Linked DNA regions of Homo sapiens. The protein of the gene in region 7 interacts with the protein of the main gene of each other region in a pairwise test. Each region holds a gene or a part of one and is shown on either strand. Other genes may lie near its edges. The genes, in order: BAG3, SMAD5, SRCIN1, CBX1, IMMP2L, POGZ and LITAF.

The links.
Region 1: the proteins of LITAF (region 7) and BAG3 interact in binary tests that used the Homo sapiens proteins (3 or more experiments, as listed by UniProt).
Region 2: the proteins of LITAF (region 7) and SMAD5 interact in binary tests that used the Homo sapiens proteins (3 or more experiments, as listed by UniProt).
Region 3: the proteins of LITAF (region 7) and SRCIN1 interact in binary tests that used the Homo sapiens proteins (3 or more experiments, as listed by UniProt).
Region 4: the proteins of LITAF (region 7) and CBX1 interact in binary tests that used the Homo sapiens proteins (3 or more experiments, as listed by UniProt).
Region 5: the proteins of LITAF (region 7) and IMMP2L interact in binary tests that used the Homo sapiens proteins (3 or more experiments, as listed by UniProt).
Region 6: the proteins of LITAF (region 7) and POGZ interact in binary tests that used the Homo sapiens proteins (3 or more experiments, as listed by UniProt).

Annotation. Positions count from the first base shown.
Region 1 is NC_000010.11:119,674,978-119,678,950, forward strand, and holds the end of BAG3 (BAG family molecular chaperone regulator 3), read left to right. Parts: intron 1-1,486; coding exon 1,487-2,305; 3' UTR 2,306-2,842; downstream 2,843-3,973. UniProt on the Homo sapiens protein: Co-chaperone and adapter protein that connects different classes of molecular chaperones including heat shock proteins 70 (HSP70s), e.g. HSPA1A/HSP70 or HSPA8/HSC70, and small heat shock proteins (sHSPs), e.g. HSPB8.
Region 2 is NC_000005.10:136,180,158-136,183,885, forward strand, and holds the end of SMAD5 (mothers against decapentaplegic homolog 5), read left to right. Parts: 3' UTR 1-2,576; downstream 2,577-3,728. UniProt on the Homo sapiens protein: Transcriptional regulator that plays a role in various cellular processes including embryonic development, cell differentiation, angiogenesis and tissue homeostasis.
Region 3 is NC_000017.11:38,602,425-38,607,582, reverse strand, and holds the start of SRCIN1 (SRC kinase signaling inhibitor 1), read left to right. Parts: upstream 1-1,630; 5' UTR 1,631-1,877; coding exon 1,878-1,899; intron 1,900-2,864; exon of another isoform or gene 2,865-2,980; coding exon of another isoform or gene 2,981-3,104; intron 3,105-5,158. UniProt on the Homo sapiens protein: Acts as a negative regulator of SRC by activating CSK which inhibits SRC activity and downstream signaling, leading to impaired cell spreading and migration. Regulates dendritic spine morphology. Involved in calcium-dependent exocytosis.
Region 4 is NC_000017.11:48,094,039-48,098,478, reverse strand, and holds part of CBX1 (chromobox protein homolog 1), read left to right. Parts: intron 1-4,440. UniProt on the Homo sapiens protein: Component of heterochromatin. Recognizes and binds histone H3 tails methylated at 'Lys-9', leading to epigenetic repression. Interaction with lamin B receptor (LBR) can contribute to the association of the heterochromatin with the inner nuclear membrane.
Region 5 is NC_000007.14:111,552,023-111,556,555, reverse strand, and holds part of IMMP2L (mitochondrial inner membrane protease subunit 2), read left to right. Parts: intron 1-4,533. UniProt on the Homo sapiens protein: Catalyzes the removal of transit peptides required for the targeting of proteins from the mitochondrial matrix, across the inner membrane, into the inter-membrane space. Known to process the nuclear encoded protein DIABLO.
Region 6 is NC_000001.11:151,404,860-151,407,932, reverse strand, and holds part of POGZ (pogo transposable element with ZNF domain), read left to right. Parts: intron 1-641; coding exon 642-698; intron 699-909; coding exon 910-1,022; intron 1,023-1,301; coding exon 1,302-1,326; intron 1,327-1,468; coding exon 1,469-3,073. UniProt on the Homo sapiens protein: Plays a role in mitotic cell cycle progression and is involved in kinetochore assembly and mitotic sister chromatid cohesion.
Region 7 is NC_000016.10:11,551,800-11,556,332, reverse strand, and holds part of LITAF (lipopolysaccharide-induced tumor necrosis factor-alpha factor), read left to right. Parts: intron 1-2,643; coding exon 2,644-2,800; intron 2,801-4,528; coding exon of another isoform or gene 4,529-4,533.

The DNA.
Region 1 (3,973 bases), on a different chromosome or scaffold from region 7:
AAAACAAAAACAAAAACAAAAAGCGTCAAGATATTTTTGCTTTGAGCATAGCTCATTAAAAAATATATGGCTTACTAGGCGTGGTGGCTCACACCTATAATCCTAGCACTTTGGGAGGCCGAGGTGGGCAGATTGCTTGAGCTTAGAAATTCAAGACCAGCCTGGGCAGCATGGTGAAACCCTGTCTCTACAAAAAAATAGAAAAATTAGCCAGGCATGATGGTATGTGCCTGTAGTTGCAACTAATCATGAAGCTAAGGTGAGAGGATCACTTGAGGCCAGAAGGTTGAGGCTGCATTGAGCTGTGATAGCCCCGCTGCACTCCAGCCTGGGCAACAGAGTGAGACCCTGTCCCCCACAAAAATCTATATATCTATATGGCTGTAGTTTATAGTCACAGGAAAACCTGTGCAGCCAGAGGTTAGCACAGAGGCGCTGTGTCATTGCTGAATGTTAGGCTACAGCACAGCTATCCTGAAGCAAAATTGTTCTGGAGTTAACCATTTAGAGCATCTTGGCTAATCCTAAAAAAATACATTGGTCTGGGCAGAAACTACTAGGCTGTCACGGTTTTAAAAAAAGAAGATCGTATCTTTTCTAAAACAGGAGACAAGAAGATCACACCGTGAGCAGACTGTCTGCACAGTGTAAGGAAGAAGGACCAGAGGCAGCGACTCCAAGGCTGCAACACCTGAGAGCTGGAGTCACTCAGGACTCTGCTCTGAGTCAGCCTAGTTCAGCAGTCAGCATGAGTTTTTGCTATTTTTTTCCTTCTTTCCTTCCTTCCTTCCCTCCTTCCCTCCCCCTCCCTTCCCCCCTTCCCCTTCCCCCCTTCCCTGCTTCCTTCCCCCTTCCCCCTTCCCTCCTTCCTTCCTGCCCCCTTCCCCCTTGCCCCCTTCTCCCCTTCCTTCCTTCCTTCCTTCCCCCCTTCCTTCCTTCCTTCCTCCCTCCCTCCCTTCCTTCTTTGAGACAGGATCTCGCTCTGTCACTCAGGCTGGAGTGCAATGACATAATCGTGGCTCACTACAGCCTTGAATTCCTGGGCTCAAGCGATTCTTCCGCCTCAGCCTTCTGAGTAGCTGGGACTACGAGTGCAAGCTCCCACACCTGGCTAATTTTTAAAGATTTTTTGTAGGGTTGGGGTCTTACTATATTGCCCAGGTTAGCTATTTTCATTTTTGAAAATTTTATTGGGTTTCTTTTCATTGCCATTAAGAATACCATCTACAGAGAAATTCAGTGAGAGGTAATAGACAAATAGCCTGGGGTGATCAATGGAAGCCTGACTAATGATTGGGTTACATACATGATTAATACCATGTTTTTATTTTGTAACAGCCATTGATTGACTTTGAAAATCTTTTATACTATTAAACTTTTTTTAAAAAGCCATTTCTCAGTTTTCTTTCTAATCTGTACTAGCTACAAACAATTTCTGTGACTTTCAGTCAGTTATTAAAAATATATTTTTGTGTCCTTTTTTCAGCAGCCCATGACCCATCGAGAAACTGCACCTGTTTCCCAGCCTGAAAACAAACCAGAAAGTAAGCCAGGCCCAGTTGGACCAGAACTCCCTCCTGGACACATCCCAATTCAAGTGATCCGCAAAGAGGTGGATTCTAAACCTGTTTCCCAGAAGCCCCCACCTCCCTCTGAGAAGGTAGAGGTGAAAGTTCCCCCTGCTCCAGTTCCTTGTCCTCCTCCCAGCCCTGGCCCTTCTGCTGTCCCCTCTTCCCCCAAGAGTGTGGCTACAGAAGAGAGGGCAGCCCCCAGCACTGCCCCTGCAGAAGCTACACCTCCAAAACCAGGAGAAGCCGAGGCTCCCCCAAAACATCCAGGAGTGCTGAAAGTGGAAGCCATCCTGGAGAAGGTACAGGGGCTGGAGCAGGCTGTAGACAACTTTGAAGGCAAGAAGACTGACAAAAAGTACCTGATGATCGAAGAGTATTTGACCAAAGAGCTGCTGGCCCTGGATTCAGTGGACCCCGAGGGACGAGCCGATGTGCGTCAGGCCAGGAGAGACGGTGTCAGGAAGGTTCAGACCATCTTGGAAAAACTTGAACAGAAAGCCATTGATGTCCCAGGTCAAGTCCAGGTCTATGAACTCCAGCCCAGCAACCTTGAAGCAGATCAGCCACTGCAGGCAATCATGGAGATGGGTGCCGTGGCAGCAGACAAGGGCAAGAAAAATGCTGGAAATGCAGAAGATCCCCACACAGAAACCCAGCAGCCAGAAGCCACAGCAGCAGCGACTTCAAACCCCAGCAGCATGACAGACACCCCTGGTAACCCAGCAGCACCGTAGCCTCTGCCCTGTAAAAATCAGACTCGGAACCGATGTGTGCTTTAGGGAATTTTAAGTTGCATGCATTTCAGAGACTTTAAGTCAGTTGGTTTTTATTAGCTGCTTGGTATGCAGTAACTTGGGTGGAGGCAAAACACTAATAAAAGGGCTAAAAAGGAAAATGATGCTTTTCTTCTATATTCTTACTCTGTACAAATAAAGAAGTTGCTTGTTGTTTGAGAAGTTTAACCCCGTTGCTTGTTGTTCTGCAGCCCTGTCTACTTGGGCACCCCCACCACCTGTTAGCTGTGGTTGTGCACTGTCTTTTGTAGCTCTGGACTGGAGGGGTAGATGGGGAGTCAATTACCCATCACATAAATATGAAACATTTATCAGAAATGTTGCCATTTTAATGAGATGATTTTCTTCATCTCATAATTAAAATACCTGACTTTAGAGAGAGTAAAATGTGCCAGGAGCCATAGGAATATCTGTATGTTGGATGACTTTAATGCTACATTTTAAAAAAAGAAAATAAAGTAATAATATAACTCAAAATGGTTTTTGTGGTTTCTAAATCTTTGAAAGCAGTGGCATCATGGAGATTGTCTGTCCCTGGTTTCAGTCAGAATAAATGACAGGTGCATTTAACAAGCCTGCTTTGGGTTTTGTGACGTCTCCAATAGCCCGGCTCAAGAGAGAATTGTCTTGGTCACCTTTCAGTCTCAGATTGCAACAGGAACCTGGGAAGACTCAGGGCTGTGAACTCCGGTAATGGGAACATGCCTGCTGCATCCGTTCGGACCGACCCAGCCAACAGCCAAGGTGCCAGTTAGGTAGCATGTCTGCCCACCTGTCCTCAGGCCTCACCAAGAAGCTGAGATTGTCCAAAAGTGCCCAGAGGGCCTGGCGCAATGGCTCACACCTGTTATCCCAGCACTTTGGGAGGCCAAGGCAGGAGGATCCCTTGAGGCCAGGAGTTTGAGACCAGCCTGGGCAACATAGCAAGACCCTGTCTCTACAAAAAACAAATCAGCCAGGTGGTGGCATGCGTCTTCAGTCCCAAGCTACCAGGGATGCTGAGACGTGAAGATAGTTTAAGTCCAAGAGATGAGGCTGCCGTGAGCTGTGATCCCGCCACTGCACTCCAACCTGGGCAACAGAGTTGAGACCCTGTCTCTAAAAATTAAAAAAGGAAGCGCACAGGGAAGCCAGCTCCCACTATTGCCCAAGGCTGGCCAAAGTGTTCCTTGGAGTCTAGGTCACTGGGGGTTGGAAATGTGCTCTGAGAATCTTGGGGTCATCTTTATTAACACCTTGTGAGTCACCAAACCAAACTGAGACCAGATTTATCTTCCTGGATTGGGTTCCTAGAAGCCTCTGGAGTTAGGGACGAGATACACTCAGGCCTGGGTAGAAGGAGATTCTTCTTGCTGTGCCAGTGGCTTTTTTTTTTTTTTTTTAACCTTGGGAGGGACCACAGCCCCACAGCATGGAGATGTGCTGGATTTGTTTATTTTTTATTTTTATTTTATTTATTTATTTAACTACTTGCCAAATAAAGTGAAAAGAGAAAGGCCTGAGACCTTGGAACTCTCAGTGAAGTGCTGACTTAAGAGCCCCCGAGCTGAATTTCTCATGACTGTATTGAGTTTAATACTGGTGCCTGACGATGCTGCACAAAAATAC
Region 2 (3,728 bases), on a different chromosome or scaffold from region 7:
CCCTAAGGATTTTCATATATCTATGTATAGGAGATAAAATTTGCTAGTAAGATTTTTAAAAACTGGCTAGTGAAAGGAAAGTACCTCTGAAAGAAACCATTTTAGCAAATTATGGTTATATGTTTTAATTTAATCTACAGAATGTTTTATAGTAAAATTCTAGCACCACTAGAATAATCACATAGCATGTACAATATATTTATGCTGGCTGAAAAGACAGAATCTGGGAATAATAAAATTGCAACCAGTTTGGTAATGCAAACAGCAGAATAGAATGAAATCTCAGTAATGAATTAAAGCAACAAAAAGATATTGATTGGCAAAAAGCAAGATATAAGAGATTCATTTGCTTAACATTTCTACATAATATTTATGGTCTGGTCAGTATTGGTCTGGTCAGTATTGCCTGGCTGACGTGAAATGTAAACTAGTAGGCGTGTTATTGATCTGCTAAAACTAACCCTCTTTTTAAGAGGAGATTTAAGGAAGACGTCAATCAAAATGTCAAATATGTGTGTCAGAATATAAATAATTTTTCACATTGTATTGTTGCTATATAAAAAAAATAATAGAATTGGTTGGGTTTCTGAGGTGAAATCCAGAGTAAGAGTACTAGACAGTTCAACAAGCCACATCTAATGGCACAGATAGAGGATGTAGCTATTTTATACCTTTCATAACATTTGAGAGTAAGATATCCTTCAGGATGTGAAGTGATTATTAAGTACTCATACCTGAAATCTGTTGTCAAGATTAGAACTGGGGTTCATGTTAAAAACCTTCCATATTACCTGAGGGTACCTGTGGGGAACAGTTCCTTCCCCTGTGTGGTAGTATTTTGTTGGAAGAGAATGTTTATACAAAAAATGAAATTCTTCCAACAGCAGAGAAACTCTAAAAAGTTTGATAGTACCTATCAAAGTGCTGTACTTCTGTGATAGAGAACATCTGATGTACCAATTTAGATCTATTTCTTTATACTTTTTCTAATCAATTGCTTAATAGTACTTTGGATGATTATCACCTTTGCCACTTAAAATATATAAATATCCTTTTTACTTCATGAGGAAGGAAGAATTTTTTGATAATTACTGAGTTCAGCCTTTTGTGATGACTTATATTTTGGACTTACATTTTAACTTTAAAGAATGTCAGATCCCTTCTTTGTCTTACTAGTTAAATCCTCACCTAATCTCTTGGGTATGAATATAAATGTGTGTCATCGTTATATTGTTCAGCTAGATGAGCAAGTATCTTAGGGTAGTAGGTAGCCTGGTGGTTTTAGAAGTGTTTGGTGATTTTTATGGAGAGAGTTTTCCTAAGTGGTGGTTTATAGGTGGTATCAGATATTATTAGGGCAGCTTTTTGGGGAGTAATCTCAGGTCTCCCAGAGCAGCAGCATTTTTCTCATTGATATAAGTAAGATTCTTAGGAGCTTTTCTTATCACACAAGATGCCTGAATCGAATGTGAGAATTGAAGGCATTTCTTCTGCATAAACAAAGAATTCTACCTGCTGGACAGAAACCTGGAAAGTTCTTTGGAATTCGCTGAATTACAGTTTAGTATGTCCTGATTACAGAGTGACAATATTTATCAAGCCTTTGTTATATTGGATTATCTTCTCTCTTAAAATACAACTGTATTATAATTGAAATGACAGCCCAAAATTGGATGGTTTACCAAAACCAATGAAAGGGATTTCACACATCAATTTTTATTTCTGTTTTGAAGAGCACATGCTATATAATAATTGCTAGTAGCAACTGCAGTAAAACAGGTGATAAGTTATTTTCTCTGAAAAGATCCAGTCCTAGAGCAGGATTCTTCGATCATTCATGGCAGAGTGAAAAAGGTTTGTATGGTTCTTGTCCAAATAACTCAGTTCTTAAAATTCTTAAAATGATCGTAAACCATTATCCTTTAAAGGTTTATTTGAAGATGCTGTTAAAGTACAGAATTTTGTGTACAGGTAGATTTTTCCGTCCCTCATTAATAGTGCCTTCTTAATTAATACAGACTGGTGTTAGCTATAACAAAACTCCAGTAAGGCCAAAGAATCCCAAGTTCTTTGTGGAAAAAAAAAAAAAATCTTTTAGGGTCAGATTTTCCCTTCTAATATCATTGAAGATGATGTTGCATTGATTTATTCATAAAGTATTTTAACTATAGGAACTCTAGAAGATAATGGTTAGGCAAGTGATTTTTTTTTTAAATATGGTTGGCGTAAGTTGTATTTTGAAATTCACTTATTTTAAAATCGAAGAGGATTGTAATCATGGAAATAGAATGTTTGTATCTACCTGCCCACATTTTCTTAAAAAGATATTTCATATACAGATAATGAAGACCAAGCTAGTGGCTGCACTGTAGGTCTGCTGCTTATTTGTATTTGTTGTGCTTCTGTTTATGTTGTAGAAGCTGAAATTCTAGCAACATGCTTCAATTCTGTTATTTTGATACTTATGAAAATGTATTAGGTTTTACTATATTGTGCTTTTGAAAGCCATAACTCTTAAGAACTTTGTTTTTGCATATTGTTTGCTAATTCTTTACTTTAATAAACCTCAAAACCTGCTTAATGTGTCTTTTTTTGTTTTGGCTCTGGAGTTGGCCTGCCTGCGTTTGAGTCATGGGCCTCATAGCTTAGACAAGTTGCTTAACCACTCTATGCCTCACTTTCCTGACCTGTAAAGGAAAAGTCTACTTCATAGGAAGGATTTGAGGGAAGATTAATTGAAGTGTAATACAAATACAGTATTTAGAACAGTACTTAGAACATAAGAACTCAAATATTAAAATTGTTACTATCTTTTACATTTCCACTAGTTCTTTGATTCAGAATAATTACTTCTTATGTTGCTTGACCTCGGTGTATCAACCTTTGATGATCCACTTTGTGAATTTACAATTTTTTATTTCCTTTTGTCTTCTTTTTTGAAAAAATTTTAAATCACAGACTGACTTTGCATCATTGTCACTGTGTTGCACACTTTTACCAACCTCTGAATTACATATACAAGACATGCAAACTCATTCTAATTAGAAAGGAATGGTGAGCGAGGCACAGTGGCTCAGGCCTGTAATCCCAGCTTTTTGGGAGGCTGAGGCAGGTGGATCACCTAAGGTCAGGAATTCAAGAGAAGCCTGGCCAACATGGTGAAACCCCGTCTCTACTAAAAATCCAAAAATTAGCCGGGTGTGGTGGCGCGTGCCTGTAATCCCAGCTACTTGGGAGGCTGAAGACAGGAGAATCGCTCGAACCCAGGAGGTGGAGGTTGCACTGAGCCAAGATCATGCCATTGTACTGCAGCCTGGGCAACAAGCGATACTGCGTCTCAAAAAAAAAAAAAAAAAAAAAAAAGGAATGGTGAAAAATCATGTGCCCTTGCCAGAAATGTAGAAAAACCCAAACTACATATTAACCCTAAAGGATAAAGATAAAAGCACTTGTTCTTTTTTTTTTTTTTTTTTTTTTTAATAGATAAAAAAGACTCTATTCAAGCTTGTCCAGCCTGCACACATGGGCTGCATGTGGTCCAGGACAGCTTTGAATACGGCCCAACACAAATTGGTAAATTTTCTTAAAGCATTATGAGATTGTTTTGCGAGTTTTTTTTCTTTTTTTTAGCTCATCAGCTATCGTTAGTGTTAGTGTGTTTTATGTGTGGCCCAAGATAATTATACTTCACTGTGGCCTAGGGAAGCCAAAAGATTGGACATTCCTAC
Region 3 (5,158 bases), on a different chromosome or scaffold from region 7:
CCCAGCCGCTTGGGAGGTGGTGTCCGTGTGCTGAGGGGAAGCTACCCTTGCCTCCCCTGAGCCTCCCCCACACAGAGCCTGCTGCCTCCCATGCCCATCCTGGGCAGGCAGCCAGGCAGGGCACTGGATGGATGCCCACTGTGCGCTCAGAGGCCAAAAGATGGGCACCATCCAGTTGGCAGAGGGAGAGGCAGTTGGCCCAGGAGGGAAGAAGTCAGGGTGCCTGCCGCTGGGGTCGTGTGCCCAGACTGTGTGTCCAGGACACAGCTCTTGGCTGTCCTCCTGATCTGTCCCACTGGAGCTGGGAAGGGCCTCTCCTCTGGTCCTGGCCCTGGCATCTGAGTTACTGCAATTGGTTATTTATCTCTAAGGGGAATCTGGGACCTTGTCCCTAGCTGGGCATGTGGTTGGCTCAGGGGCAGGCCTGGGGGTGGATAGGAAATTGGGAGAGCCCAGATTAAGGTTGCAACTGGGTAGACCAGGAAGTGGGGAAACCGGTTTGTCATTTGGGCCACTTGGGGTGGGGTCTCCTCTCCTGGGCTCTCTGCCTGCCTGCCACTCTGCCTGATGGCCCACAGTGAATAGAAGTACTGTGTCCACTCTCTTGCTCACCTAAACTGCTTTTGGAAACTCCAGAAGTAAATAAAAGGGACAGGGGACTCAGCCCACCTTCTCCTCCGCAAGAAAGCTTGAGAGAGAAGGGACTGGCCAGAGCATCGGAGCGAGGGAGGGAGGGGGCCGCTGGAATCACGAGGTGTCGGCGCGGGCCTGGGTCTGGGTCTGGGTCCGGGTCAGCGCTGGAGAAGTCTGCGGAGCCAACAGGTAGGCCAACGAAGGTGGGACGCGGAGGGGCGGGGGACGGCAGGGTGGAGCCGAGCTAGTGCTCTGCGGGCTGAAGTAGAGGCGGCAGTGACGCCGCCAAGCGAGGCGTGAGCAGGGACCGTCGCTGGAGCGTCCTACGGTGGGGTCTCACTGGCCGGAGGGGCGCGGACCTGCCTGCAGTTCCCGCGCACGCCTGCAGGAGGGGCTGCAACCCGGAGCGGGGGCGAGGCGGCGGCCCAGCAGGGGGCGCCGGGGAGCCCAGACCCTCCGACCGAGCCGCGTCTAGGCGCGCTGGGGTGAGGGGTCGCGAGGCAGAAGCAGAGGAGGATCCGGGCGCTCCCAGCATGGGGCGGCTGTTGGTTTCCGCGGTCACCTTGGCTGAAGGGAGCCCCCAGTCTCGCCGCCCCGCCTCCCCACCCAGCCCCGAGAGCCTTTCCATCCCTAGGCGCGCCCGGGCTTGGAGACCCAGGAGTCCTCCACCCTCCAAGTGTCCCCGCTTCCCCGGGTGCCTCCTCCGAGCCGGTCCTCGGTCAATGTATTTGTCTCTATCGTGGCGCGAAGACTACTTGGGGTGGGACGAAGCAGGTGGCGCGGGAAGGAGAGAGTGAGCGCGCCCCGCGCCCGGCCCCGGCCGCGCGCTGCGGGATCACGCGGTGAAGCTGGAGGGCGCGAGAAGGCGCAGTGCCCCCTCCCCTCCCCCGCCCCCGCCGCCCCGGGCGGCCCTTTGTAAGTTCCGGCCACACGCGCGCGCCCGCGCCGCGCGCGCGCCCGCCCGCAGTGACACACCCGCGCCGGCCCGCGCGCGCGCAGACACACACTCAAACACACACACACTCGCTCTCGCACACTCGGTGACACGCCCGCGCGCGCGCTCACCCACACGCCCGGCCGCCGGCGCCCTCCCAGCTGGTCCACCCCGGCGGGGCCCGCGCCCCCGGCCCGCCCGCCTGGCACCGCGCCCCGGGGCTGGGGCCGAGCGAGGAGCCCGCGAGGCGGCGAGAGGGCGAGCGCCAGGCAGGCCGGCCCGGGGCCCCCGCCCCCCGCGCCCCCGCCCGATGGGGAACGCTCCGTCCCAAGGCATGTCCCTGTCTCTCTCCTCCCTAATGTGCCTCCATGCTTAAGTGGAAGGTATTTCTGTTTTCTTTGTGTGTTTTCCCCCTCGGCCGGGGGCGGGGGCGGCGGCCGGGCCGGGGAGGCGGTGGCCGGCGGGGCGAGGGATGCTGGGGCGCAGGTGTGTGGGGGCAGGGGACCGCTGTGCGCCGGGCTTGGGAGAAGGACCCGGGCGAGAGGAGTGCTGGGACCAGAGAAGGGGGCAGGGTGGCGAGGCAGGAGACTGGGTGGGGAGGGCCTCACTACGCCCCGGGGTGGGGGCCAGAGGGGTTCAACTGTAAAGGGGCTTGTGTGGAAGGGGGAGGGGTGAGGAGAAGAAGGGGGATGGATGGTGAGGAGGGTGGGGGGAGAAGGGCGTCCCTCCGAGGTGGGGGAAGTGGAGGATGCAGGGGAGGGGAAGGGGATGGAGAAGTGAGGGGTGCATCAAAGGCCTCCCTCCCCCAGCTCCCAGAATGGGGTGCACGGGCTAGGATGGTGGTGGTGGGCCCTTTGCGCCAGCCTCCAGGGAGGGAAGGGGATGAGTGCGTTCTGGGGTTGGCCGCGTTGCCAGGATACAAGCCTGTATTCCACACACCCCCCCTCCCCGCACCTCGAGGCCCTAGCCCTGGAGACCTCTGAGCCTCAGCAGCAGTTGCAGAAACTGGGGACCAGCTCCCCGCTCTACCAGCGGGTAGGGAGGGCCACGAGAGGGAGGGGTTTAGGGAGGGGCTATTTGATCTTAACCCCTCCCCCTGCAGAGGCCAGGGGGCAGGGGAGGGCGCCCCCAGCTGGGGAGGGCATCTAGGGTGAGTGAGAAGATAGGGAAGGCAGGCGGCTGAGGGGTGGAGGGTGGGGCTGGGAAGGGGACGCACCGTGGCCCCCCCTCCCCTCCCACGCACCCCCCTGCTACGTCAGAAGCTCCCGGGCCAGCTCCGAGTCCTGTCGGTGGGGGCAGCAGGATGCTGGTGGAAGCAGAGGGGACAGGCCGGGTGCCTCCGCAGCTCAGCTGTCAGGGCCCGGCGGGGCGTGTGCGGCTGCTGGTGCTCGTCCCCCAGCCCCACGCGTCCCCATGCAGCCCTGGCAGTGCCTCCGGCGCTTTGCCCTGGCCTGGTGGGAGAGGACGGCGGAGGGCAGAGCCCGCTCTCCCAGGGAGGAGGCTGGACCGAGGGACCCTGGGGGCCGAGGGGAGCCAGGTGAGCAGGCGCGGGGAAGTATGCAAGGAGGGGGATCTTCCCAGCCCCCCTCCTCAAATGTTGTGGGACAAGGAGGTCCTGCAGCACCCCAACTTTAAGGAAAGTGGGCTCCCCGAGCTGGGGGTGGGGGTTTCTGGCAGCAGCCTTTCAAAAGGAGATGGAGGAGCTGCTGTCTGTTTTGGGGAAGGGAGAAACAGGTGAGGCTTGGGAGTGAGGGAAGCTGACCAGACTTCCAGGTTTGTGGGCCTGAATGTTCCTTTGGGTGGGGTTTGAGCACTTTTGGGGGGTCGTCAGGATACCTTCTTCCCGACTCTTGGTATCTTGGTCTGGGTGACCTTGAGCCAACTGCTTTGCTGTCTAATTCCTTGCCTCAGTTTCTCTTATTCCCATCCCTTTCCCTCTTGTTGATCTTTAAAAATTGATGATGCATTTGATGGAGATTGTGAGGCTGTCGCCACTGGTGGCAGCTGTGATGGTGGTGGTTTCTGGTGTGGTTGTATGTGGGGAGCAGCTATGGTGCATTTGAGGGGTTTTGCTGGTTCTGGTTGGTGATGGGCCACTCCATACAGGTGTCAGGGACATGGGAAGGAACATTCACACAGGAAGGAGTGCTCCAGGCAAGCTGAGAGTTGCTGGGGACAGAGACTTAGCTGGTGGCCTGGGGTAGAAGCAAGGGATGGGGTGAGGGCTCTGGGCATAAGGGGAGGGTTTCCAAGAATAAGATGCACCCCCCCTCCACCCCGCTGTCCCCACCCAGACTGCCTGGCACCCAGGCACCACTGGCAGCAAGTGCAAAGGCTTTGCCCTGGCTTCCTGCCACCCTGCCTTGGGGACAAGAGGGTCTTTGTCCAGTCCCCCCACAACAATTCCTGCTTCTTCTGCCCTTTCCACGATGGCTGGTTCTCTGTGATGACCCTCAAGGCTGGGATGGAGGCACAAATCCCCCTTCTGGCTCCCACTGTCTGTGCCCTGGAGCTCTATCTGGAAGAGGCAACTGTGGTCCTCGGGGAGTGCTGAGTGGAGAGGGATGCTCCACTAGGGGAAGGGTCGCTCGAATGAACCCCTCAAAGAGCTACCCCCACCCCAGGCTTTCCCCTGCCCCTCTACTTGCCTCCTTGCCTAATGCGGAGGGTCTGGGGTCTTCGTGGCCTCATCCCTGCTGGGTTCCAGGCGTCTTAAAGATGTGCAGGATACTGGGTTGGGCACTGGGATGCAGGGCCTCTCTGATGCACTCTCGCGCTCTCTCTCTCTCTTTCTCTCTCTCTCCCCCTCTCCCCCCTCCCTTCCCTGTCTCTCTCCCTCTTCCCTCTCTCTCGCCAGGGACCCACCCTGGAAAAAGGGTTTAATTAGAACCATTGATTCCTTCTTTGGCTGTGGGCATCGACAGTGTGGTCAGAGCTAGAGGGTGGGGGTGGCATGGCTGCCATCTGCCTATGCCAACCTTGGAATTCTCTGCCAAAACCCCAGCCCTGGAAGTGCTTAGGAGGGAGGCGGCTGGGCTCTTTGAAGTACCCAGTTTGTTGAGCCCCCACCCCCACCCCAGGTTAGGTTTTGGGGAAAGAAGGGAGACAGTGTTGAGGATTTGAACTGAGGGAGCTGAGTTTGGGGCTCAAGGAAGAACAGTTCATGGCGTCTGTCATCCTGGGTAGCAGGCCTGGGGCACATGAAGAGGCAGCTGTGGTGGGGGGTGCTCTTGCAAAGGGGCCTGTGGGTGCTGGGCAGGCAGGGAGTTCAGGGGAAGGATCCAGGGCTTGCCATAAAAGCTGCTCTTTCGAGGAATCTCAAGCATTTATCTCCTCCAAGCCCTGGCAAGGAAATCTGTTTTCTTTCTTCATTTATGTCCTTGAGGCCCAGAGAGGGACACAGACTGCCTCAGAGGCCCAGCAGACTTAGGTCTAGCTTTAAGCCTGGTTTCCTGACCTAGGGACCCCTGCTTGGGCACAAGCTGCTGAGGGTGAGTCTCCTGGTAGCTGAGGCTCTGGACTCTAGGATTTGTGGGGGGTGGGGGACAGGTTGTGCCCCCCAAGTCCTGGCTGCCTGCTGTGGGTGGGCTG
Region 4 (4,440 bases), on a different chromosome or scaffold from region 7:
TGTTCATTAGTGCCTGGCACATAGTAGGCCGTTCAGATTGTTGATGAATGAATGATGAATAGGGGAGCTTTGAGATCCATTCTGAGAACTCAGCCAAATTAATGTGCATAGTAGTTTGCTTGTCCTGTGTCTGTGACATTTGGCAGAGTTAAGCTGTTGCTTTGCCATGTTTGTCTTAGCCTCAGTTAGTTTCTTTTTGTTTGTTTGTTTGTTTGTTTTTTGTTTTTTTAAGACAGAGTGTCGCTCTGTTGCCAGGCTGGAGTGCAGTGGTGGCATCATGGCTCACTGAAGCCTCAACCTCCTGGACACAAGCAGTCCTCCCACCACAGCCTCTTGAGTAGCTAGGACTACAGTCTCATGCCACCATGCATGGCTTCTTTTTTGTGGGGACAGTCTCTGTTGCCCAGAATGGTTAGCTTCAGTTTTGTACTCACTCTGGTACTAAATATAGAAAAGGTATACAGGCTGTGCAACTGGCCGTTTTAAATACCTCAGGCCTCAGATTCTGGGTTTTGTCAGCAAGCAAATAGCTTGAATATATCTGTTTTAAAAGAATCTTGAAAAATCTTCTGTGTCCTTTGTATTGACCTGAGCAATAATTTACCAGTAGCAATGTCTGTTGAAAAATTGAATAGCCTTTCCAAGGTTATTTGGAGAAGTTACTCAGATATGGACAAAATTTAGATCTTGTCAATATTTGCATAGAATAACTTGTATTAAATCTTTCCTGCCTTTAGCATTTATACTTTGATGACCAGAAGGGGGCAACCTAATTTGTCTGTGAAATTGTGCCTTTTAAAATAATAGTTGACACTTTGAGTGCGTAACAGAACTATGGTATTAATTTTTTTTTTTTTTTTTTGAGACAGAGTCTCGCTCTGTCGCCAAAGCTGGAGTGCAGTGGCGCGATCTCAGCTCACTGCAACCTCCGCCTCCCAGGTTCAAGCGATCCTCCTGCTTCAGCCTCCGGAGTAGCTGGGACTACCAGGGGGCCCCGACAACGCCCGGCTAATTTTTGTATTTTTAGTAGAGATGGGGGTCTTGCCATGTTGGCCAGGCTGGTGTTGAACTCCTGACCTCGGGTGATCTACCCTCCTCGGCCACCCAAAGTGTTGGGATTACAGGTGTGAGCCACTGCGCCCAGCCTATAGTATTAATTTTTAACTGACAAGAATGGTGTATCCTTATGGGGTACAATGTGGTGGCGTTTTTTTTTCTTTTTTTGAGACGGAGTTTCGCTCTTGTTGCCCAGGCTGGAGTGCAGTGGCGCAATCTCAGCTTACTGCAACCTCCGCCTCCTCGGTTCAAGTGATTCTCCTGCCTCAGGCCTCCTAAGTAGCTGGAATTACAGGCGCCTGCCACCACGCCTGGCTAATTTTTTGTATTTTTTTAGTAGAGATGGGGTTTCATCATGTTGGCCAGGTTGGTCTTCAACTCCTGACCTCAGGTGATCCACCCTCCTTGGCCTCCAAAGTGCAGAGATTACAGGCGTGAGCCACCACGCCCAACTTGTGGTGGGGGTTTTTGAACTTTTATTTTTCTCACATAAATAGAGGCAGGGACTCACTATGTTGCCCAGGCTAGTTTCGAACTCCTGGCCTCAAGTAATCTTCCCACCTCACCCTCCCAAAGTACTGGGATTACAGACATGAGCCACTGCACCTGGCCCACTGTGGTGGTTTTTGTTTTTCTTTTCTTTTTTTAGACAAGTCTTGCTCTGTCACCCAGGCTGGAGTGCAGTGGTGCACTCCACTCAGCTCACTGCAGCTTCCACCTCCCGGGTTCAAGTGATTCTCCTGCCTCAGCCTCCTGAGGAGCTAGGAATACAGGTGCACACCACCATGCCCAGCTAACTTTTTTTGTATTTTTAGTAGAGATGAGGTCTCACCATGTTGGCCAGGCTGGTCTTGAAATCCTGACCTCAAGTGATCCACCCACCTCAGCCTCTCAAAGTGCTGGGATTGCAGGTGTGAGCCACCATGCCTGGCCACTGTGGTGTTCTGATACGTTTCCAATGTAGTCATAATTCTGGTCTAGCTTTCTAACCACTTTTATTTTATCTTAAATTCACCTTTGAAAGATAGCTTGAGGTATCTCTGTGTCCATACTAACATTTGTAGACTCTTGTGGCCTCTCAACCCAAAAATCTGTGTCAAAATATCCATGTCAACATACTCAAGGGGTTTTCCAAGTTTCAGAACACATCTCAGATAAAATTCAAAATGTATTCGCACACCAGCATTCTAGCCTTTGATCCTCTGGAATTCAAGGGCTGGTGTTCCTTTAAAAATGAAACTCCTGACTGGGCGTGATGGCTCACGCCTATAATACCAGCACTATGGGAGGCCTAGATGGGTGGATCACCTCAGGTGGGAACTGAAGACCAGCCTGACCAACATGGAGAAACTCCGTCTCTACTAAAAATACACAATTAGCTGGGCGTGGTGGTGCATGCCTGTAATCCCAGTGACTCGGGAGGCTGAGGCAGGAGAACTGCTTGAACCTGGGAGGCGGAGGTTGCAGGGAGCCGAGATTGCACCACTGTACTCTAGCCTGGGTGAAAGAGCAAGACTCCATCTCCAAAAAAAAAAGAAACTCCTGCTAACTGTGTGTGGCATAAGTTCTTGTTTTCTGCTTAGTCAAGTTTTCCATCTGGAAAGCATTTGCTTCGCAAACAGCCACAGCTTACAGACTACAAGCAGTTTAGAAACAAGACTACCACCTGAATATACTACACATGCCTTCACCTGCCTTTTGATGATTGGTATGTAGTTGCTGATTCTTTCAACAAAAGGTACTTCTTTCTTGTTTTCTCTTTAGGGCTTATGGATCAGATTTATCTTGCTGCTTATTCCCTTAAAAGCTTATAGCTTTGGAATTCTATTCCCTGATGCTTCTGAGACAGTCATCCTCTTTTTTTTGAGATGGAGTTTTGTTCTTGTTGCCCAGGCTGGAGTGCAATGGTGCAATCTCAGCTCACCGCAACCTCAGCCTCCCAGGTAGCTGGGATTACAGGCGTGTACCACCATGCCCAGCTAATTTTGCATTTTTAGTAGAGATGGGGTTTCTCCATGTTGGTCAGGCTGGTCTCGAACTCCCAACCTCAGGAGATCTGCCTGCCTCAGCCTCCCAAAGTGCTGGGATTACAGGCGTGAGCCACCGCGCCCCACCTGAGACATCCATCTTTATTGTCCATATAGGGTTCAACAACTTGTTCAGGTTCCAGACCTACCTTTAATTGTATGTGCAAGTAAAAATAGAAACAGAATGCTTTGGGAACCCCAAAGAAAAGAGAAATATTATTTAGCTAGGTTGGGTAGGCTTCATGGAGAAAGTAGCATTTTTAAGCTGGGTCTTGAAGAATGGATAGGATTTTGACTGTTGGCCCTGTACAGGAGCACACTACTTTCTTTTTTCTTTCTTTTTTTTTTTGAGGCAGAGTCTTGCTCTGTCACTGAGGCTGGAGTGCAGTGTCAAGATCTTGGCTCACTGCAACCTCTGCCTGCCTGGTTCAAGTAATTCTTGTGCCCCACCCTCCCAAGTGGCTGGGATTACAGGCATGCACCACCACACCTGGCTAATTTTTGTATTCTTAGTAGATATGGGGTGTCACCATGTTGGCCAGGCTGGTCTTGAACTCCAGGCGTCAAGTGATCCACCCGCCTCGACTTCCCAAAGTACTGATTTATAGGTGTGAGCCACCAAGCCCAGTCAGGAGCACACTTTTTTTTTTTTTTTTTCCTTTGAGACAGAGTCTTGGTCCGTCACCCAGGCTGGAGTGCAGTGGCGCGATCTCAGCTCACTGCATCCTAACCCCGTTTTCCGGATTCAAGCAATTATCGTGCCTCAGCTTCTTGAGTAGCTGGGACTACAGGTGCGCCATGCTGGCTAATTTTTTTTTTGTATTTTTAGTAGACACGGGGTTTCACCATGTTGCTGGGCTGGTCTCAAACTCCTAGCCTGAAGGATCCACCCACCTCGGCCTCCCAAAGTGCTGAGATTACAGGTGTGGGCCACAGAGCCCAGCCCACACTTTTTTTTTTTGGAGACAGAGTCTTGTCCTGTATCCCAGGCTGGAGTGCAGTGGCACAATCTTGGTTCACTGCAGCCTTCACCTCCCAAGTTCAAGGAATTCTCCTGCTTTAGCCTCCTGACTATCTGGGATTACAGGTATGTGCCACCACACCTGGATGATTTTTGTATTTTTACTAGAGTTGGGGTTTCACCATCTTAGCCAGGCTGATCTTGAACTCCTGACCTCAAGTGATCCACCTGCCTTGGCCTCCCAATGTGCTGGGATTACAAGCATGAGCCACTGCGCCCTACCAAGCCCACACTTCTTTTTTTTTTTTTTTTTTTTTTTTGAGACAGAGTTTCACTCTTGATGCCCAGGCTGGAGTGCAGTGGCACGATCTTGGCGCATCGCAACTTCCGCCTCCC
Region 5 (4,533 bases), on a different chromosome or scaffold from region 7:
TGGGTAAAGGACTGAATAGGAGATGAGGCTGAAGGGGGCTGGACATGAGAATAGAGAGTAGATATGCTTGGGTCCCTCTTAGGAGATAATTGTTCTTCAGTCAGGGTATTTACTTAATACATTTTATTGTGTATATTTAAGGAAAATAACATGTTATGGAATACATGTAAATAGTAAAATGGTTACTGTAGTGAGACATAGTAACATCCATCATCTTACATAGTTATCCATTTTTGTGTGTATGACAAGAGTAGCTAAAATCTACTCATTTAGCAAAAGTCAGGAATACAATACAGTATTATATAGTACTGATGCTGTACATGAGTTCCCAAACTCTTTCATTATACATGGCTGCTACTTTGTGTCCTTTGACCTACATCTCAATTTCCTTCCCCCTCCCCTGGGATCACTGTTTTATTCTCCATCTCTGTATGCACACATATTAGAATCCCCTAGAGAGCTTTTAAAAATTCCGACTGATATCTTTACAAGGTTGCGGTTTCATTTTCTTTGGGTATGTATATATATATATATATACATGCACACAGAAGAGGGATGGCTAATTGGTACAAAATAGAAGTAATGGTAGTTCTATTTTTAATTTCTTTAGGAACCTCCCTACTTTTTCCATAATGGTTGTACCAATAGTATACAAGGGTTCTCTTTTCTCCCACCCTCGCCAACACTTATCTCTTGTTTTATTTGGTAGTAGCCATCTTGATGGGTGTGAATATATGGAAACAACCTAACTGTCCAACAAAAGACAACAGAAAATCAAACTGCAGTACATATATAGAATGGAATATTATTCAGCCTTAAAAAAGAAATAGATTCTGCTTTTTGCCATAAGATAGGTAAACCTAGGGGACATTATGCTAAGTGAAGTAAGCCAAATGCAGAAAGAAAAATATTGTATTATCTCACATGTGGAATCTTAAAAAAAAGTCAAATACATAGTGAAATCATATCACTGCTTCAGATTTTATTTTTTGAGAGAGAAACAACATGTCTGTATGCTGTGAGTTAGAAACACCATAGAAAGGGAGATGTTGAAAATACAGTTGCCTGATTCCTTGCTTGTCATATTTTTTTTTTTGTGAATGAAGATTAGGTTGTCGCTTTGTTTGCCTACTCCTTCCCGGCTTGCAAAATTCATATCTGACCCCAACTGTCAGATATGAATTTTAAATGTCCTTTCTACTCTATTCTTTCCTGCCCCACAGTTCACTGCTGTCTTGCTCTCACTACGTCTGGCCCTTTTGCATACATTATTCTCTAACCTAATCCAGTTGTGCGTAAAAACTCCATTTTCCTTTATTAAAAGTTGAAAAATTTCACAGGAGTGTCTGCTAGGAGAATGGAGGAAATAATGATAACAAACATAAAAATCATTCAGCATAGCCAACATGTATTAATATCTGCTATGGTAAAGGCCCTGGATACAAAGATATATATGGCAGGAAGGATGAGTAACATAGGGATCTGATCTTAATGCATTTATGCCTAGTGCTCCATTATTGGAGCGCTAAGCTAGTGGGAGTTATTTATATCCTACTTCTCAAGGTCATCGCCAAGGCCTGATTTTTCACAAAAAAAATTTGCAACCTCCAGCATAAATGGGTTAAGGACCCCTCAGGGCAGTGAGAAAAATGGATATATAAATAAAGCAGCACCAGTACTTTGGGAGGCTGAGGTGGGTGGATCACCAGAGGTCAGGAGTTCGAGACTAGCCTGGCCAATATGGCAAAACCCCGTCTCTACTAAAAATACAAAAATTAGTCAGGCATGCTGGCATGTACCTGTAATCCCAGAGGCTGAGGCAGGAGAATCACTTGAACCCAGGAGGTGGAGGTTGCAGTGAGCCGAGAATGTGGTACTGCACTCCAGCCTGGGTGACAGAGCAAGACTCCATCTCAAATAATAATAATAATAATAATAAAATAAAAATAAAGCAATGCTTTGAGGGACAATATGTGCTATGATAGAGTTCAAGGTAAGATAGATGCAAAAAATGGACTTCATTATTTTTGTGATCCTGAAGGTCTCACAAAAGGTGATACCTGAGCTATAGCTTGAGATATGGCATGGTGAGGTTCGGGGAGTAAGATTAGGGGAATAAAATATTCCTTAATGGCCCCACGATAGCAGCAGAAGGGGCTTGGGTTTCTCATCTTCCCTTTCTTCTTGTTCTGCGTGATTTTATTGCAAGATATTTTTGTGTTTGAGGGAGTTCTTAGGGGGTTAATATGTTTCAGTTTACATATAGACGTATCAGCATTTTCTCCCTTGTGATATAAACTTTCTGTGAATTTACCAACACTGGTTTATTATATATTAGACAGCTAACACAAACCAGTGCAATTATATCAAGTATCTGGGGGATGAGGTCCAGGCAGTGATATTTTCAAAGCATCTTAGGTGTCCTCATGGCAGTCAGGGTGGAGAACCACTGGGCTAAAACATGGCTTAGAAGAAAAGGCTGGGATTTGGAGCTAAAAAATTGTAGATTAGATTCTTGAATTCCTTTTAATAGTTACGTATCCTTAGTTAAGTTACTGAGACTTCTCTAAGGCCATCATTGAAAAATAGGATGGTAGTATACCCGTCCTGCCTACCTGTTTTGCAAAGTTATATGGCTCAAAAGAGGAGATTTGTGTGAAGGAACATTATATGCAGATGTGATTATAACAATAAAATGTTCTCTTGACCTTCTCCAGAAGTGGACAGGCTTAAGAGCTGGCTACCTTGTCCTGTAAGATAGGAACTACTTTATGGATTTTGATTTAATATTTTACCATCACGAGCATTTTGATGATATATTTTACTACATTTGTGTAATGCTACAAGGTTGAAGACCTAAAGCCAAAATGCAGAACCTTAAAGAAATAGCAGTTGAGCATTTCCTGTCTGATATATTCTAATTGTTTAAAATTACACAGATGCTTATTGTAATTAAGATTTAAGTGTGTAGTCTCAGTGTCAGTAATATTTTAGTATTAAAATTCTCTAAATGTGTTAAGTGTTTATTTTCATGATATGCACATTAAAAATAGCCATTTTCCAGAAAATAGTAACAACTCCACAGAGCACAATGGAGCACCACAAATGGACTTATTTTGGAGATTCCCATTATATTCGTTAAGAATGCAGGGACATATACTGTGTCTCTGTACTGTAGGAAGCTTGACATACTAGTATCAGTCATATAATCGTGTAGGAATGATCATCCTTACAGTATTATACCTTATTTTAGTTGAGAAGAAAGTGGTATTGTTTAATGACAAATTGAACCTAAAGCCTAAAGACTGGGTTCCAGATCTGTTTTCTCTACTCATTCCTATATGATAATTGGTAAATTAACCTCTCTGAGCCTCATATGTAAAATTGGGTTCTCTGTTGTTTTGTAACATGAAAACCTTAGTGGCTGAAAACAACAATGATTGTTTGTTATCTCATGGTTGCTGTGGGTCAGCAATTTGAGGGTCCTTGCTTGGTTCTCTGGAGGTTGCTGTCAGATATCAGCAGGAGTGGAAGTTTTATAGGAGCATCACTGGAGCTAAAAGATTCACTTCCAAGGTGGCTTACTCACTTGGCTGGCCAGTTGGTGTTGGCAGGTTGGTTCCTTTCCACAATGGGCTTGCCGTGGGACTATTCTCATGAGATGGCAGATGACTTTCCCGAGATTCAAGCTGCCAAAGTAGAAACTGCAGTGCCCTTTATGACTTACCTGTGGAAGTCATACACCATCATTTCAGATGTATTCAATTGGTTCTACAGACCAGCCCTGATTCAGTATGGGAGTGGATTACACAAGGACATGAGGCAAGGATCATTGTGGACTGTCTTGTGAGGGTAGGCTCTCTGAGAGGATAACAGTCTCTACCTGACATAGGATTGCTTTGAGTTTCATTGTAAGCATTTATGTGAGAGTCCTTTGTAAACCATTAAAGCAGCATATAAATGTGTTATAGAAGTGATGGTGGCTCACACCTGTAATCCCAGCACTTTGGGAGGCCGAGGCAGGTGGATCACTTGAGGTCAGGAGTTTGAGAACAGCCTGGCCAACATAGTGAAACTCTGTCTCTACTAAAAATACAAAAATTAGCCGGGTGTGATGATACATGCCTGTGATGCCAGGTCCTCAGGAGGCTGAGGCAGGAGGATCTCTTGAACCCTGGAGGTGGAAGTTGCAGTGGGCAGAGATTGTGCCCGTGCACTCCAGGCTGGGTGACAGAGTGAGACTCTGTCTCAAAACAAAACAAAACAAAACAAAAATGATGCTATTCCTTTTGACCAGTAAAACTGAATGGAAGTTGAATTATTTTGCTTTGTGCCATGTTAGCATTATGACACACCTTGCTCCAAATCCTTTCCTGCTTGCTTTACCTTATATCTTACTTTATATTCAAGAATTCTCCCCCTTTAATAATCAGCTAGAACAAAATAGCCTTTTTCAAGTTTCTCACATCTCTGGTGTAGAAGTAGTACATTGAATGGGAGAAAATTATAAACGAGCAGTGGCTATAGCATGAA
Region 6 (3,073 bases), on a different chromosome or scaffold from region 7:
TCAAGTGATTCTCCTGTCTCAGCCTCCCAAGTAGCTGGGATTATAGGTGTGCACCACCATGCCTGGCTGATTTTTTTGTATTTTTAGTAGAGACGGGGTTTCACCTTGTTGGCCAGGCTGGTCTCAAACTCCTGAGCTCAGGTGATCCACCTGCCTCGGCCTCCCTAAAGTGCTGGGATTACAGACATGAGCCACTGCGCCCGGCCCCAGCCAGATTCTTGAGCACTCATTTCATTTTCTCCCCTGCTTCTAATATGTTTCCTCCTTCAACTCTTAGAGCTATTTGTTCTTCTCTCCTAGCAGAGTGAGAGGCTCTGTTTTTTCGGTTTTGATGGTCTGTGCTCTAATTTCATAGGGCCTTGCTATTCAAGTACCAGTAGTATTAGGTGGGAGCTTGTTAGAAATGCTGACTCTCAGCCCCGCCCTAGGCCTACTGAACCAGAATGTGAATTTTAATAGATCCTCAGTGACTTGTATGCATATTAAAGTTTAAGAAGCATGGTGACAGGAAAACTGGCTTAGGTTGAGATTAGGGTGCACTGAAGAAGTGTCTCTTTTGTTGGGGGCATTGTCACTGGCTGGTGATCTCTAGCTTAGCCAGCAGAACTCCGTAACTCATACCACTTCTTTGTCTTTCTCAGCAATCATGTTCCACGGAAGAGCCCCAAGTATTTGGCTTTGTTTAAAAATTCTGTGAGGTAAGAAAAAACTTATTGGCAGCATCTTAATTTTTCAGGTTTTTACATTAATTTTCAGGTTTTTCATTATTTGGAGAGGTGGTTATGTGAATTAATTTCAGAAAAAGGAGAAAGTGGGAGGGCATTCCTTTTCTTTCTTAAGCCTCAAAGCTTAATGGTCTCAAGTGTCACTGCTGTGTTTGTCTTACATAGTCTCAATTCTCTTTTTTAGTGGAATCAAGCTGGCCTGCACTTCATGTACCTTTGTTACCTCTGTGGGCGATGCTATGGCCAAGCATTTGGTATTCAACCCCTCTCACAGATCCAGCAGCATCCTGCCACGGGGTAAGTAGGAGAGAAGGGGATTAGTTGAGCAAGGGGAGGAAAAAAGATACAGGTTCGTACTGTATGCATCAGGAGCATACCTACTTGGCCTCACTCATTCACTGTTGAGATGTGCTGGACCTAATTAGAAACCTTCCGACCTGAAGTTTATATAAAACTGGGAAAGCTGGTCACTGCGAACAGCGTATTTGTATGTAGTAAGTTGAATCCCAGGGCACTGTCTTTGGAGGGCTTATTTTTTCACTGAGCTAACTATTTTTGTTGTTTCATTTTCCATAGGACTCACTTGGATAGCTCACTCAAGGTAACAAAAACTCACCTCACAATTTAATTTCTGGTTTGCAGTGTGTTTACTCTGTTATTATTATTATTATTATCATATTATTGTTTCAATTTCCTAGTTGAACTGAGATTTCTCCTCTTCTCTTTGCTCCTCACCCCTTTAGGCATGGCCAGACTCGTGACCGAGTGCATGACCGGAACGTGAAGAATATGTACCCTCCTCCTTCCTTCCCCACTAACAAAGCTGCCACTGTGAAATCTGCGGGGGCCACCCCAGCTGAGCCTGAAGAGCTACTAACTCCCTTAGCCCCAGCACTCCCATCACCAGCCTCAACTGCAACCCCACCACCAACCCCCACTCACCCGCAGGCTTTAGCCCTTCCACCGCTGGCTACAGAGGGAGCCGAATGTCTGAATGTTGATGATCAGGATGAAGGGAGCCCAGTCACCCAAGAACCTGAGCTAGCATCAGGTGGTGGTGGTAGTGGTGGAGTTGGCAAAAAGGAGCAGCTGTCTGTGAAGAAGCTTCGAGTAGTACTGTTTGCTCTATGCTGCAATACAGAACAGGCAGCTGAACACTTCCGAAATCCCCAGCGACGTATTCGCCGTTGGCTTCGACGTTTCCAGGCCTCCCAGGGGGAGAATCTAGAGGGCAAATATCTGAGCTTTGAGGCAGAAGAGAAACTGGCTGAGTGGGTGCTAACCCAGCGCGAACAACAGCTACCTGTAAATGAGGAGACCTTGTTCCAGAAGGCCACCAAAATAGGACGTTCTTTGGAAGGGGGGTTTAAGATCTCCTATGAGTGGGCTGTGCGTTTCATGCTGCGGCACCACCTGACTCCCCATGCCCGGCGAGCTGTGGCCCACACCCTACCTAAGGATGTAGCAGAGAATGCAGGACTCTTCATTGATTTTGTACAACGGCAGATTCACAACCAGGACTTACCCTTGTCTATGATTGTGGCTATTGATGAGATCTCTTTGTTCCTGGATACAGAGGTGCTGAGCAGTGATGATCGAAAGGAGAATGCCCTGCAGACAGTGGGCACAGGGGAACCTTGGTGTGATGTAGTCCTAGCCATTCTGGCAGATGGCACTGTCCTTCCCACCCTGGTTTTCTACAGAGGGCAGATGGATCAGCCTGCTAACATGCCAGACTCCATATTGCTAGAGGCAAAGGAGAGTGGCTACAGTGATGACGAGATCATGGAGCTGTGGTCAACTCGAGTGTGGCAGAAGCACACAGCTTGCCAGCGCAGCAAAGGCATGCTTGTGATGGACTGTCATCGCACTCACTTGTCAGAAGAGGTACTGGCTATGCTTAGTGCCTCTAGCACTTTGCCTGCAGTGGTCCCAGCAGGCTGTAGCTCCAAAATTCAGCCATTAGATGTATGCATCAAAAGAACTGTCAAGAACTTCCTGCATAAAAAATGGAAGGAACAGGCTCGGGAAATGGCAGATACTGCATGTGATTCTGATGTCCTGCTTCAGCTGGTGCTTGTCTGGCTGGGTGAAGTGCTAGGTGTCATTGGGGACTGTCCAGAGCTAGTTCAGCGCTCCTTCCTGGTGGCTAGTGTTCTGCCTGGCCCCGATGGCAACATTAACTCACCTACAAGAAATGCTGACATGCAGGAGGAGCTAATTGCCTCCCTAGAGGAGCAACTGAAGCTGAGTGGGGAACATTCTGAGTCTTCCACTCCACGACCCAGATCATCTCCTGAAGAGACAATTGAGCCTGAAAGTCTTCACCAGCTCTTTGAGGGTGAAAG
Region 7 (4,533 bases):
CAGCTTTTCCGTAATAAAGTATGGTTTAGGATCTTTCCCATGGTCATCATATACGAATCTTTTGGCACATCTCTTGGAGGCACAACCAACTTTCTTCTGAGAATGGGAGTTTGTGTCTTAAGGGCCCGCACACTTCCTCCTGAGGTCTGATGCAGAACTTCTGCCCTGAGGCCAGGGCCGAGGTAGGAATAGGGAGGAGAAGAAACCGTCCTGAGCAATGTGTGATTGTGTTTTCATACCAGCTCACCCTCAATGCAAGTTGCTCTTCTGCTTTTGAGCAACTAGATGGTCCCTGTCCTTTGGTGCTTCCTTCCGCCCAAGGGTGCCCTGGTATGTCACTGCTTTAGTATCACAGGTAGTTCTGAAAGAAATCTTTAGCTCAGAGAGGGGGCCCGTGAATCAGACTGCCTGGGTTCACATAACCTCCTTGTGCCTCAGCTTCCCCATTTGTAAAATAGGTTTCATCAAGTACCTATTTATAAATATCAGTGAGTTGTTAACATGAGAGGAAGTTGTGTGTGCCAAATACAGAGTACTCGTTTGATAAAAGTGAACTCTTATTGTTGTGTTCAAGTTATTTTGAGCTGGAAGAGGATGAGATAATGACTTTAGATTCTTAGACCATCCTGTGATCAATAAATAGTTTCTTTTTCTTTTTCTTTTTTTTTTTTTTTGAGACAGGGTCTCACCATGTTGCCCAGGTTGGAGTGCAGTGGTGCAGTCATGGCTCGCTATAGCCTGGACCTCCTGGGCTCAAGTGATCCTCCCACTTCAGTCTCTGGAATAGCTGAGACTACAGGCATACAGCACCACACCTGGCTAATTTTTAAATTTTTGTGTAAATCGGGTCTCACTGTTTTTCCAGGCTGATCTTTAACTCCTGAGCTCAAACGATCTTCCCACCTCCCTTGGCCTCCCAAAGTGTTAGAATTATCAGCATGAGTCACAGAGCCTGGTCCAAATAACTTATTCTTGAACCCCAAAAACACTTAATAAAATGTATGAACAGGGTGTGGTGGCTTGCGCCTGTAATCCTAGCTACTGAGGAGGCTGAGGCAGGAGGATCACCTGAGGCCAGGAGTTCCAAACCAGCCTGAGTGACATAGTGAGACATTGTCTCTATGAAAATAAAATTAGCTGAGTGTGATGGCTTGTACCTGTAGTCCCAGCTACTTGGGAGGCTGAGGTGGGAGGATTGCTTAAGCCCAGGAGGTTGAGGCTGCAGTGAGCTATGATTGTACCCCTGCACTCCAGCCTGGGCAACACAACAAGACCTTGTCCCCCCTGCCAAAAAAAAATTACACGTAAGTGCTAAAGTATGATTTAATACTACTTTTCTGGAAGGAGGGTCTTTCTATGAGTATTACTAAGTTCAGTTAACTCTAGGCAGTAATTTCCCCCTAATTCATTTGTTATATAAATGACATTCTAACGTAAAAAGGAACAGAAGGAAGTTGCTTTAACAAAAATATGAGCTTAACAACTGAAGTGCTTGATGATTTTCATCACCCTGGGTTCTCTCTTTTTTTTTTTTTTTTTTTTTTTGAGGTAGAGTCTTGTTCTGTTGCCCAGGCTGGAGTGCAGTGGCATAATCTCGGCTCACTGCAACCTCTGCCTCCCAAGTTCAAGCAATTCTCCTGCCTCAGCCTCCCAAGTAGCTGGGACTACAGGCACGTGCCATCATGCCCGGCTAATTTTTGTCTTTAGAAACAGGGTTTCACCATGTTGGCCAGGCTGGTCTTGAACTCCTGACCTCTGGTGATCCACGCACCTCGGCCTCCCAAAGCCAAGGGATTTGCTGGGATTACAGGTGTGAGCCACCGTGCCCGGCCTGGATTCTCTTCTGATTCTTGAGAATGTTCGAACATGTTTTCACATAGCTTTTTCTTCCTAGCATTATTTTATATTTTCATTTCTTGTATCAACACAGTTCACTAGCTTGTTGTCTTACAGAGTTGGCCTGCGTTTCCTGGCTTGGTAAACTCTACCCTTATCATTGGCTGTCAGAGTTTATCAAAGGGTTTGTGTAAAGAGAGTGGATTATTTATCAAGAGCTGCTAGGCACAGTGTGAGGCTGGTTAAAATTTATTTATTTGTTTTTGGGACTGAGCGTCGCTCTGTTGTCCAGGCTGGAGAGCAGTGGCGCAATCATGATTCACTGCATCCTCAATCTCTCAGACTCAACTGATCCTCCCACCTCAGCCTCCTGAGTAGCTGGGACTACAGGCGTGTACTCCCACGCTGGGCTAATTTTTATATTTTTTTGTAGAGATGAGGTCTTGTCATGTTGCCTAGGCTGATCTCAAACTCCTAGGCTCAAGCAGTCCTCCCACCTCGGCCTCCCAAAGTGTTGGGATTACAGGCATGAGCTACCGCGCCCGGTCCTCCTTTCTTTTTGAGGCTGAATCATATTCTGGTGGATGGATAAACTTCGCTGTGTTAGTTTATTGGTCCGTCGATGGACACTGGTGTTCCTTCCCCTTTTGGCTCTCATAGATAGCCAGACGATGAACGCATGCTATGAACACAAATGTACAAATATAATATTTGCTGGCATCCCTGCGTTCCTCTCTTTGTCCTGTAGTGAATGCTATTGGCCTTGTTTCCTGAGCAACCTGTGTTTGTCCCTCTCCCTTTCATCAGTTACCGTGCAGACGGTCTACGTGCAGCACCCCATCACCTTTTTGGACCGCCCTATCCAAATGTGTTGTCCTTCCTGCAACAAGATGATCGTGAGTCAGCTGTCCTATAACGCCGGTGCTCTGACCTGGCTGTCCTGCGGGAGCCTGTGCCTGCTGGGGTGAGTCTGCCTCCCACTTGGCCCCAAGCCATCCTGCCCTTCTCTCTGGGTGCTGGCGGGGGTGGGTTCTCAACTGCACCATGCTTGACATTCAGGGCCAGACATTTGTGTTGTTTTTTTTTGAGATGGAATCTGGTTCTGTCGCCCAGGCTGGAGTACAGTGGGGCGATCTCGGCTCACTGTAACCCCCACTGCTCAGGTTCAAACGATTCTCCTGCCTTAGCGTCCCGTGTAGCTGGGATTATAGGGGTGCACAACCACGCCCAGCTTATTTTTAGTAGAGCTGGCATTTCACCATCTTGGCCAGGCTGGTCTCAAACTCCTGACCTCAGGTGATCTGCCCACCTTGGCCTCCCAAACTGCTGGGGTTACAGGTGTGAGCCACTGTGCCTGGCCTAAGGCATTTCTTTCTTTTTTTGTGATGGATTCTCACTCTGTTGCCCAGGCTGGAGTGCAGTAGCACGATCCCGGCTCACTGCAACCTCCGCCTCCCAGGTTCAAGCTATTCTCCTGCCTCAGCCTCCTGAGTAGCTGGGATTACAGGTGTGCACCGTCAGGCCCGGCTAATATTTTGTACTTTTAGTAGAGATAGGGTCTCACCATGTTGGCCAGGCTGGTCTCGAACTCCTGACCTCAGGTGGTCCACCCGCCTCAGCCTCCCAAAGTGCTGGGATTACAGGTGTGGGCCATCATGCCTGGCCCAAGACATTTCTTTATTGTAGGGGGTGTCCTGTGCATTGTAGGATATTGAATAGCATCCCTGGCCCCCACCCGCTTAATGCTAGGAGCACCACGCTCCCCAGTGTTCTGAACAAAAATGCCCCCTGGGAGGCCAAGTCATCCCTGCTGCTCTTAAGCGTATCCGTCCCCAGAAATTGGTCTTCCGTCTTTTCTTCTTGCTTATCTGCTGAAACCACGCCCTGCATGTAGGGACAAGCTTCACAGCTGCTTCCAGCTGTGTACAGGGCAATATCCTCAGGGATTCCTTTTTCTTCTAGAATTTCATGACCTAAATAATAATGTTTTGCTCGAGCCCGAGGGAAGCTTTAAAGAATCTGTACATTAAAATTCTTCATAGGAATTGCTTCAAAACTTCTTATCCTTTTATGACCCGAAGTATTTTTCCCATTGCCCATGCAGGGAAATTATATAAATTTTATGTCTGCACCAAAGGTATTATGTTTAAAGAGATAACAGTTTCTGTTCTGGGAGAAAAATCTGAGGAAACACAATCAATTTTTTGTTTCCCACCAAGCAGGTAAAAGTAGCTTCCTTATACCTGGCCACGTGAGCCACTCAGAAAACCCCAAGGGGCTCCATTCTTTTCCTTGAAGGAAACGGTGTTTGTGAGTTTCAGGAGCCTCATGCAACCGGCACGTTCCTCCACATTGTCCTTTGGTGACTTGAGGTTGAGAAGGAACAATATTTCTCTTCCTAACTTCAATAAGAGGCTCAGAGTCCCAGAGAGTTTAGTTAACTTCCTTGAGGTCATGTGTTAAATAAGGAAGGAAGGAGACAAAACAGCTTTCTGGGCACCTGATTCCCCCTCTTGCCCACAGGACTCTGCTGTTGTTTTCATTCTGTGGGCAGAAAATGCTTAAAAAAAAAAAAAGTCCATTGCCTCTGGATATTTGTATTAAAACAAATTTTTTATCTTTGGAATCAGGGAAAGATGGAATAGAAACTTGTTTTGTTTTGTTTGAGGCTGAGTCTTGCTCTGTTGTCCAGGCAGG